Linked DNA regions of Homo sapiens: all the other regions are linked to region 1. The links come from fine-mapping of genetic effects on gene expression. A gene starts in region 1. Each other region holds a variant in brackets. All regions are shown on one strand. Distances are between the middles of the regions. Region 1 holds the start of RMI1 (RecQ mediated genome instability 1). Region 2 overlaps GKAP1 (G kinase anchoring protein 1). Region 3 overlaps KIF27 (kinesin family member 27). Region 4 has its middle 39 kb from the start of RMI1.

Region 1 (2,749 bases):
GCCGAGCGCCAACGCGCCCTCCCCTCCCCGCCTCCCGGCACCGAGATCAAAAACAGCCGGGTAACAGGACGGGAAAAAGCGAAAGTCGACAGCAGAAGCACCGCACCTCTCCTCACCCGGATCCGACAGGAAATGGCGGCCCGCGTAATGGCGACTACGTGCTACTAGGCGGAGCCGAGCGCCGACCCCCTCCCCCACCCACCACGCGGTCCCGAGGTCTCATCCCCCGCATCCTCCCCCCACTGCCCGAGACAAAGCCATCGAGGCAGCCCTGACCGTTCCATCCCCGCCGCTCCAGCTCCGACCCCGGGCCGGGAGACCCAAGGTGAGGCGGGGCTCACACAAAGAGAGCGGCGGCGCGACCTTCTCCCCGCACCGGCCTCCTTTCCTCCACGAGGTCCCTAGTTCCCAGTGCCACATAGCTCCAGCTCATCCTAGAGGCACATGCCTCACGAATCCCCAAGTCTCTAGGACCACAACGCGGACTGCGGATACACGCTCAGGGAAATGGCGGAGGTGGGGGAGGGGACACCGGGCAACGTTCCCACTCGGAGAAGCGGCCAAACACCAAAGCGGCTCCCAGGACGCCTCCCTCAAGCGGAAAAACTGGGCTCCGACCCTCACCTCCACGAGCCGCTCCCCCAACCCGGCTCCTCACCGCGCGAGACTGCCGTCCCTCCGCTGCCGCGCCGCCTCAGCCGGTCGGAGCTAGACAGAAAACGAGCGCAGGCTCCCCTCCCCCGCCTTCTCGCGTCCTCCCCGCCGTCGCGCCCTATTGGCTGCCAGGGCTTCAGCGATGGTGCGAGGGCGAAGCGATTGGCCCGAGGCCACGTCAATCAAGGCGACGGAGGAGGCGACAACCCCGCCTCCCGCCAGCGCCTCCCTTCGGGCTGGGAGGCCACTAAGGGCTCGAGAAAACCCGGGCTTGGGAAAAGTAAACGCAGCCTTTCAGGGAGCCCCAACCCTTACCCGAATCAGCAATACCCAAGCTCCAATAACTCCAATTACCTATAGGCCGCGAACAAGTGGGACACAGGCAAGACGTCGAGGTCGGTGCAGCAGAGAAACAGAGGATAATGGCGTCTGCAGTGCTGTCGCCTGGAGCGCCCTCCTCCTTTCTCGTTCGCGCACTCACTAGCTGGGGGGAGGGGCGGCTAGGGGGCGAACCTCTCGCGAGATCTAACAACTGCCTAGTTCACGCGCACAGGGAGGGGGCGGGGAAGGGGCGTTTTCCAGCCCCGAAGGAGTCCTTTGGGGTTGGAGGAGGGGCGCGAGCGCGCGGCAAATCGGGCGGGAAGAGGTAAAAAAGGAACTGGGAGCGCGCCGCGGCGGTTCCTGTCCTTACAGTTGCGCTGCCCAGGGACCGATGTTGCGCGAGGAAAATGCGGGACGCCCAGGTCGGTGCTCGGCCCAGACTTATGCCCGTGTTTTCACAGCCCACACTCGTGCCCGAAGCCCCTTACCCCGCCCCGGGCTGTGGTCTGTGGGCTGTGGGACGAGCTGCGGCGCGGTAAGTGCGGGCCGTCTGCGTCCGCTGGGCCGGGCCCACGCTTCGGAAACCCGTTGTTTGTAATGGTCCGGGGCGCCCGTCAGTCAAGGCCGGGCCCGGGGGCGCAGCTGGCGGTTCTCGGCCTGCCTTGCGCCGGGGCGGGAGCCGGGGAAACGCGGGGCGAGCCTGGGAGTACTGGAGAACTTCTCGCCGAGAGGGCACAGGCGGTTTCACAGGGCTCTCGGTTCTGAGACTTTCCTCTTGGGTAATGGGACCTGAGATGGAAGTATTTTGTAGTGTCGTCGCTGTAGTTTATTCCGATAAAATTTTTAGGCAATATGTATTGCCCTTGTCTCCTAAAATGAATGCGTATCGCTGAATACGTTGCAGACCTCCACGTTCCATTCAAAGCGCCTGCCTTGTGGCAGTGATGAAAACAGACAAAAACCCTTGCCCTCAAACGTGCTCCTGTTCTAGCGGGTTCAGCGCACACTTGCATTGTATTCGGTTCCTTACTTTTAAGGCTCCTGTGCCAAGCTTTCATGACTTCCTTTGTTAAGGCACATAAGGTCACTTTCAATCGGTGACAGCCCTGGGAAATCTCCAGCCCTGGTAGTACCCGCTTTCCACATCCTTACTCGTCAACCTTCCAGCCTCCGCCCACAATCCCAAACTCATTTTGAAGCATAAAGGTGTCATAATCTGCACATAAAGCGAAATCCACCATTGGCCGAATACATGCATATATTTTAGTGTTGATGAATTTGTGCTGATTCATTCCTGTTATAATGTTTCCTTCTTGGGTAATTTGCAAAACATATATACCAGCATTCTTTTAAATGGCCATGATTGCATCCACCCAGCATCTTTTACTTGACTGATTAGAGGAAAACTCTTGTTAGGGCGCACTGAGGATTTCATGACAAACACCAGTATTTACATTCTGGGAGGATACGTTAACACATGCTGTTAGAACATAATGTCCGGGATTGTGGAATTTATAAAAGTTCTCTTTAAGTGATAATATAATTTTTTAAATGGTCCCCACCATGAAGAGTGTATAGTCTTGTTGGGTAGGTAAAACTTAACTCGCATTTCAGTTCTAAAACACAAAGTTCAGAATTTTATTAAATATTCAAAACTGATGAGTTTATGTAGGGGCTTAGGATACTTGGATTATAGAGATTTAATCCGCCAGTTAGTATTTGCAACATTTAATTGAGTTTGTCATTTAAAACCTGAGACATGTCACTGACACTA
Region 2 (2,749 bases), 230 kb before region 1:
CCATATTTACATTTACATTATAAGTGTTACAAGTATTTTCATGTAATGATCCTATATAAAATTCTACTTGGATTACTTATGCTATGGACACTGTTGTTACTGATAGCGATTTTTAATCTATTTTTGAGAGCAAGCTTTTATCAGTTAACTTTCTCAATTTCCACAGTGTTTTATGGGGAGGAAATATTATTTTATTTTTACATATTTAGAATTTATACATCCAATACGCAATGATACTCTTCATTTCTGCACTTAGAAATATATCTTCTAAATAACTTAATTTTTTATTTTCATAACTTTGTTCATTAAAAGACCCACATGGAGATCAATAACATGCACAGGTCTAAATTAATCTCAGGATGTAGACATCTAAATGTCCAAATAATATTTTTCCCCGTATTTTTTTTTTTTTGAGACAAAGTCTCACTCTATCAGCCAGGATGGAGTGCAGTGGCATGATCTTGGCTCATTGCAACCTCTGCCTCCTGTGTTCAAGTGATTCTTGCACTTCAGCCTCCCAAGTAGCTGGGATTATAGGCAAGCACCACCACACCTGGCTAATTTTTGTATTTTTAGTAGAGATAGGGTTTCACCATGTTGTCCAGGGTGGTCTCGAACTCCTAACCTCAAGTGATCCACCTGCCTCGGCCTCCCAAAGTGCTGGGATTATAGGCATGAGCCACTGCGCCTGGCCTCCCCCCATAATTCTTTAACTTCTATTTGTGTAATAGTTAAGTTATAAAAAATATAAGGTTGAACCTACTTCAAGAGTATTCATGTTCTGTTCAACTGGACATGATTTCTGATTTTTACTCATTGTTTGACAACTATTTTGTAATGTAGTTTAAATTTTGTTTGGACAGTTATATTCCAAGTATAGTCATCCCTTGGTATACAATTGCTTGCAGGACATCCCGAGGACACCAAAATCTAAAGATGCTTAAGTCCCTACTATAAAATGGTGTATATTTGCATAAAACCTATGCATATCCTTCTATATGCTTTAAATCATCTCTAGATTACTAGCTGGGCGTGGTGGCTCATGCCTGTAATCCCAACACTTTGGGAGGCCGAGGC[G/A]GGTGGATCACGAGGTCAGGAGATAAAGACCATCCTGGCCAACATGGTGAAACCCCGTCTCTAGTAAAAATACAAAAAAATTAGCCAGACGTGGTAGCAGGCGCCTGTAGTCCCAGCTACTTGGGAGGCTGAGGCAGGAGAACAGTGTGAACCTGGGAGGCGGAGCTTGCAGTGAGCGCCACCACACTCCAGCCTGGGCAACAGAGAAAGACTCCTTCTCAAAAAATAAATAAATAAATAAATAACAATTTAAAAAAATCACCTCTAGATTACCTATAATACCTAATATGGCATAAATGCTATGTAAATAGTTGTTACACTGTTATTGTTTAGGGAGTAATGACAAGAAAAAAGTCTGCACATGTACAATTTCAACAAATATATTTGTGATCCACAATTGATTGATCCACAGATGGGGAACCCATGGATATGGAGGGCTGACTATATCTTCACATCTGAAAACCATTTTTGGTATTTTGTTTTTTCATTTTTCAAGGTGAATTTCACAATTTCTTAAGAGCTATACAATATTCACAGGAGCTATCTTTGGAGTTTCATTAGCATTTATTAACAGGAAAACTGTTGATTAATTTTGTCTATTCAGAGAAAGATTTTCTCCTTTATGTCTTAATCTGTGTTTCTTTTGTGGTTTATAATTTCCTTTGCCTAAGTCTCATACTAAAAAATTAACATATATTTCTTTTTCTATTATGAATGGAAAATTTTCATAAAACTTTCAAGATAAATGTCACTAGGTATATACACAGTGAGAAATGCAACTGATTTGGCAGGCTTTTGTATATCAGCTTTACTAATCTTATCATCTGCAATCATTTTTTTCTATTGATTTCCTTGGCTTCCTGCTGGTAACCTCTTGTCAAAAGTTTACAGAGTAGCAGCAAAAGTATGAAGAGCAGTGGGGAGGGGAGAAGGAAATAAGGAAACAAAAAGGAAAACCTAAAGTGATGACAGGCTGCCTCCTTCAATAACTGAAAAAGCAGAATCCTAAGCAAATGTTAGGCTTGTTTTCCCTCTAAATATAGTTCAGTAAGTTATAAGAATTGAAATTTTAAGAGTTTCTTTTACCTGAATAGTTATAAACTGGTATAAAACTAAGGTGCTGTAAGAGTGACCTGTAATAATAACTTTATCAGCAACTATCCAGCATTTTTTTTTTTTTTTGAGACAGTCTTGCTCTGTTCCCCAGGCTGCAAGTACAGTGGTGCAATCTCGGCTCACTGCAACCTCTGCCTCCTGAGTTCAAACAATTCTCATGCCTCAGTTTCCCGAGCAGCTGGGATTACAGGTGTGCACTACCACACCTGGCTACTTTTCGTATTTTTAGTAGAGATGTGGTTTCACCATGTTGGCCAGGCTGGTCTCAAACTCCTGGCCTCAAGTGATCTGCCCACCTTGGCCTCCCAAAGTGCTAGGATTACAGGTGAGCCACCATGCTTGGCCAACTATGTAGCTTATATCACTCTGGGAAACCTTTCTACTTTGTTGAGTCTTTTTTTCAATTTTTTTTATTGGCACATAATAATCATATATATTTATGAGGTGCATGTGATATTTTGATACAGGCATACAAAGTGTACTGATCAAATAGGTATTTAAGATATCCAGGAACTCAAACATTTATCATTTCTTTGTGTTGAAGGCACTTCAAATC
Region 3 (2,500 bases), 130 kb before region 1:
GTGAGGATTTAAGTATCTGAAATATTTCATAAGATTCCTATGAAATGTTATTAGAAGGAAAATGTAGGTGTTAAAAATAGGGCAACGTAGTATTTTTTCACATACTAGAGAAGATCGATGAATCCCTGTAGGAAAACCTACAAGTTCTCTTTTTCCTTTTCTTTTTTTATTTTGGACACAGGGTCTCGCTATGTTGCCCAGGCTGAACTCAAAAGTCTTGGGCCCAAGCGAACCTCCTACCTTGCCGTCCTGAGTAGCTGGGACTACAGGCACATGCCACCATGCCCAGCTCTTCCAGTTCTTTGAACTATCCAAATACATGTTATGTTGGTGATACAAATCTGTGGTAAAGAATTACTTCAGATTGGTGAGATTTGGATATATGTTTCCATATACCCATACCTATTGTGGAGGCCACCTTGATAAGTTCCTGTGGCAGACTATCTTGTCCATCTGCACACCCTTATTGCCTAGCACAGTACCTATCACATAGTTTGAACTCAATATCTGTTGACTTAATGAAGAAAGAAGAGAAAAAAGTTTCATGTGTCCTTGGTTACAGGACCCATGTTATTTCTCTCCACTCCTTCCCCTAACATCCCAAAGGAAAATAATATGAATATTTCTTTCTTTTTTTTTTTGACAGGGTCTCACTCACTTTGTCATCCAGGCTGGAGTGCAGTGGTGGGATCTCAGCTCACTGCAACCTCCACCTCTTGGGTTTAAGCAATTCTCCTGCCTCAGCCTCCCAAGTAACTGGGATTACAGGTGCATGCCACCACGCCTAGCTAATTTTTGTATTTTTAGTTGAGAAGGGGTTTTGCCACATTGGCCAGGCTGGTCTTGGAACTCCTGACTTCAGGTGATCTCCCTGCCTCAGCCTCCCAAAGTGATGGGATTACAGGTGTGAGCCACCATGCCTGGCCAATAGTGTGAATATTTCTGATCTACCTAAAGAAAAATGTTCACCAGCCATTCTATTTCTCTGTGCAATCACTAACCATATGGAATTTGATGGTTTGATAATTGCTCCATAAGGAATAAAATAATATTCACCTTTTCAAGAAAAAAACCCCTTAAATACTAAAATGTACTTAGGTGAATGAATAAGAGGAGCCACAAATAAAAGTGAATTATCCAATATAGAGTAAGTCCTTATCATCAATAGGTTCTTGGAAACTGTGACTTTAAGAGAAACAATACATAACGAAACAAATTTTTTTTCTTATTAACTTTGTAACAAAAGCAACTATGTTGAAGGAAAACAGTGTAATTTGAGGACCTGATGTACATGGTGTCTCTTAAAGTCACAATTTCCAAGAACCTATCCACAATGTTCAGTGAGGACTTTACTGTACTTGACTTTTGAATTTATA[CT/C]GTGACTATATTTTATCAAAAACAAATGTGAAGAGTTTGCCTTTATACATGGCTGAGGACAATTTCGTATAAATTCAGTTTCTATGGTTTTGGATCTAAGTTAAGGAAGTACTGAGATAATATAAGGTAGTGTGAATATAGAAACCCAAGGACAGCCCGCTCCAGTGAGGCTGCAGCATATCAGTGTTTGCAGTTCCCTCTAACTCAGCAATAGGTGTAGGCTGACAAGATACGTGGCAATGGGTAAGTAACTATCCTGGGATGAAAAATTTGCCACAATACAAACCACAGGTTATCAAGAGTTGACTCTGCTTTATGATAGAGCACTGCTTTTCAACTTTAATGTGTACCCAGGAGCTCACTAGAATTCAGATTCTGATCCAGCAGGTCCACTTGGGGCCTGAGGATCTGCATTTCTAACAAGCCTCCAAGTGATGCTGTTGCTGCTGGTCCAGAGACCAAGTAAAATGAAACAAAAAACTAACAACAACTTTTGAGCAAGCACTGCAGAGATTTCCCTGTAAATTTTATGTTCTCGGCAGGGTGTGGTGGTTCAAGGCCTGTAAACCCAGCACTTTGGGAGGCTGAGGCGGGTGGATCACTTGAGGTCAGGAGTTCGAGACCAGCCTGACCAACATGGCGAAACCTCATCTCTACTAAAAATACAAAAATTAGGCCAGGTGCAGTGGCTCACACCTGTAATCCCAGCACTTTGGGAAGCCGAGGTGGGTGGATCATGAGGTCAGGAGATCGAGACCATCTTGGCCAACATGGTGAAACCCCATCTCTACTAAAATACAAAAAACTAGCCAAGCATGATGGCACTTGCCTGCAGTGCCAGCTACTCAGGTGGCTGAGGCAGGGGAATCGCTTGAACCAGGCAGGCGGAGGTTGTAGTGAGCTGAGATCACGCCACTGCACTCCAGCCTGGTGACAGAGCAAGACTCCGTCTCAAAAAAAAAAAAAAAAAAAAATTAGCTGGGCATGGTAGCGCACATCTGTAATCCCAGCTACTGGGGAGGCTGAGGCAGGAGAATTGCTTGAACCCAGGAGATGGAGGCAGTGAGCCGAGATCGCACCACTGCACTCCACCCTGAGTGACAGAGTGAGACTCCATCTCAAA
Region 4 (2,749 bases), 39 kb after region 1:
GAGTTTTTCTGGTATTATTAATTTTAAAATCCTTTCATTTTCTTTTTCTTGAATTATCATTTTAGTTAAATATTGGGCTTCTGGATTGGTCTTCATGTGTATTAACTTTCATCTTTTTTTTTTTGAGACTGGGTCTCGCTCTGTTGCCTAGAATAGAATGCAGAGGCACAGTCACAGCTTGCTGCAGCTTCAACATCCAGGGCTCAAGTGACCCTCCCACCTCAGCCTCCCAAGTAGCTGGGACTATGGGCATGTGCCACCAAGCTTAGCTAATTTTTAAATTATTTGTAGAGATGGAGGTCTCCCTATGTTGCTCAGGCTGGTCTAACTCCGGGACTCAAGTGATCCTCCCACTTTGGCCTCCCAAAGTGCTGGTATTACAGGTGTGAGCCACTGTGCTTGGCCTTAACTTTCTTCTTGGTGTACTTTTTTGTCTTGTTTCTTCTTTCTGAAAGACTTTCTTGACCTTACCTTCTAACCTCTATTTTTTTCAGCCATCAAATTGTTAATCTCCCAAAACTCTTTCTGTTATTTAATTGAATTATTATATTTAAAAATTTAATAGCAGCTGGTTCTTGTTTCATAAATGTAGTATCTTCTGTATATTTTTGAGGATACATAGTAATCTTTTTTTTTTTTTTTTTTTTTTTATGGGGTCTTGCACTGTCACCAGGCTGGAGTTCAGTGGTGAGATCTTGGCTCACTGCAACCTCTGCCTCCCGGGTTCAAGCGATTCTCCTGCCTCAGCCTCCCGAGTAGTTGGGATTACAGGTGCACACCACCACGCCTGGCTAATTTTTGTATTTTTTTTAGTAGAGATGGGGTTTCACCATGTTGACCAGGCTGGTCTTGAACTCTTGATTACCTTAGGTGATCCGCCCACCTCGGCCTCCCAAAGTGCTGGGATTACAGGCGTGAGCCACCGTGCCCAGCCTAATCTTTTTTTAAAAAAGTTGTTTATGTTTTATGAATTGTCTTATGAATTTATCTTTAGTTCTCTTAATACATTCCTCTCTTTTCTTTTGTGTTTCTCATTCACATTACAGATTTTCCTTAAAAGTCTGGCAATCTTTGATAATCTGTCCACTTTTAAGAATGAGGCAATAGGCTGGGTGCGGTGGCTCACGCCTGTAATCCCAGCACTTTGGGAGGCCGAGGTGGCAGATCACGAGGTCAAGAAATCGAGACCATCCTGGCCAACAGGGTGAAACCCTGTCTCTACTAAAAATACAAAAATTAGCTGGGCGTGGTGGCAGGTGTCTGTAGTCCCAGCTACTTGGGAGGCTGAGGCAGGAGAATCTCTTGAATCCGGGACGTGGAGGTTGCAGTGAGTCGAGATCACACCACAGAGTGAGACTCCGTCTCGGGGAAAAAAAAAAAAAAAAAGAATGAAGCAATAGAAAGATTGACTTTGAACTTTTCATACTTGAATGGGCTTCTTGGCCAACAGTGCCCCGTTTAGCTGCCCTAATTCTTCCTAGATGGTTCAATAAACTTCTTTATAGAAAACTGTGTTTACGTTTATTATTACTATTATTCTCT[T/TC]CCTTTTTTTTTTTTTTTTTTTTTTTAAGACGGAGTCCGCTGTGTCGCCCAGGCTGGAGTGCAGTGGCGCGATCTCGGCTGACTGCAAGCTCCGCCTCCCGAGTTCCCGCCATTCTCCTGCCTCAGCCTCCAGAGTAGCTGGGACTACAGGCGTCCGCCACCACGCCGGGCTAATTTTTTGTATTTTTAGTAGAGACGGGATTTCACCATGTTAGCCAGGATGGTCTGGATCTCCTGACCTAGTGATCTGCCCGCCTCGGCCTCCCAAAGTGCTGGGATTACAGGCGTCAGCCACAGCACCTGGCCTATTACTATTATTTTCTGCCTGGAGAACAATCACCTGCTTGATGGATGTTTTGCTTACTGGTTTGTGGGAGTGGAGTGGGCGCTTTTTATATACTCCATATTATACAGGCTGTTTTAGTCCATTTTCTATTGATATAACAGAATACCAGAGACTGGGTAATTCGTAAAGAAAAGAAGTTTATTCATCTCACAATTCTGGAGGCTAGGGAGTCTAAGAGCATGGCTCTGGCATCTGGTGAGGGCCATCCCAGGGCAGAAACATGGAAAGCAGAAGTGAGCACGCAAGACAGAGAAAGGAAATTTGGCCAAACCCCCTCCTTCTAATTACGAATCTACTCCTGAGATAAGAAATTCACTCCCATGATAATAGTAGTAGTTCATTCATGAAGGTGGAGCCCTCATGACCTAATCATCTGTTAAAGTCTCACCTCTTAATACTGTTACATGGACAATTGAATTTCTTTCTTTCTTTTTTTCTTTTTCTTTTTATTTATTTTATTTTATTTATTTATTTTTAGACAGTCTTGCTCCATCACCCAGGCTGGAGCTGGAGTGTGGTGGCATGATCTTGGCTCACTGCAACCTCCACCTCCTGCGTTCAAGCAATTCTCCTGCCTCAGCCTCCCGAGAAGTTGAGATTACGGGCGTGCACCACCATGCCCAGCTAATGTTTGTATTTTTAGTAAAGACGGAGTTTCACCATGTTGACCAGGCTGGTCAACAGCCTCAGCCTCCCAAAGTGCTGGGATAATAGGCATGCGTGAGCCACCGTGCCCAGCCAGGCAATTAAATTTCAACAAGAGTTTTGCGGGGACATTCAAACCATAGCACATGCTTTAAATAATAACCCTGCTTTCATTCCCAGGTCTCATTCCTCTTTTTCATCCTAACTGAATTTTCT

Evidence for each region. PIP is the estimated chance that this variant, and not a neighbour inherited with it, causes the effect.
Region 2: its variant is fine-mapped to the expression of RMI1 in whole blood (TOPMed, PIP above 0.99). The same link has a PIP of 0.9 or more in lung.
Region 3: its variant is fine-mapped to the expression of RMI1 in whole blood (INTERVAL, PIP 0.92).
Region 4: its variant is fine-mapped to the expression of RMI1 in whole blood (INTERVAL, PIP above 0.99).

The regions. Positions count from the first base shown.
Region 1 is chr9:83,979,495-83,982,243 of GRCh38, forward strand. RMI1 (RecQ mediated genome instability 1) reads left to right here and starts at 1,311. Exons shown (of 3, transcript NM_001358291.2): 1 at 1,311-1,397. It overlaps HNRNPK (heterogeneous nuclear ribonucleoprotein K), which reads right to left and starts at 721. Exons shown (of 17, transcript NM_031263.4): 1 at 659-721. RefSeq lists enhancers at 1-154, 975-1,024, 984-1,491, 1,065-1,124, 1,255-1,324 and 2 more and silencers at 695-834, 1,645-1,724.
Region 2 is chr9:83,745,397-83,748,145 of GRCh38, forward strand. All of the region lies in intron 10 of GKAP1 (G kinase anchoring protein 1), which reads right to left. Among named protein-coding and RNA genes, the nearest start is that of UBQLN1, 39 kb to the left of the region's middle. The variant G/A (reference allele first, on the strand shown) is at 1,078.
Region 3 is chr9:83,854,410-83,856,909 of GRCh38, forward strand. All of the region lies in intron 14 of KIF27 (kinesin family member 27), which reads right to left. All of the region lies in intron 2 of LOC124900638 (a long non-coding RNA gene), which reads left to right. Among named protein-coding and RNA genes, the nearest start is that of GKAP1, 38 kb to the left of the region's middle. The variant CT/C (reference allele first, on the strand shown) is at 1,377.
Region 4 is chr9:84,018,575-84,021,323 of GRCh38, forward strand. No RefSeq gene overlaps it. Among named protein-coding and RNA genes, the nearest start is that of RMI1, 39 kb to the left of the region's middle. The variant T/TC (reference allele first, on the strand shown) is at 1,543.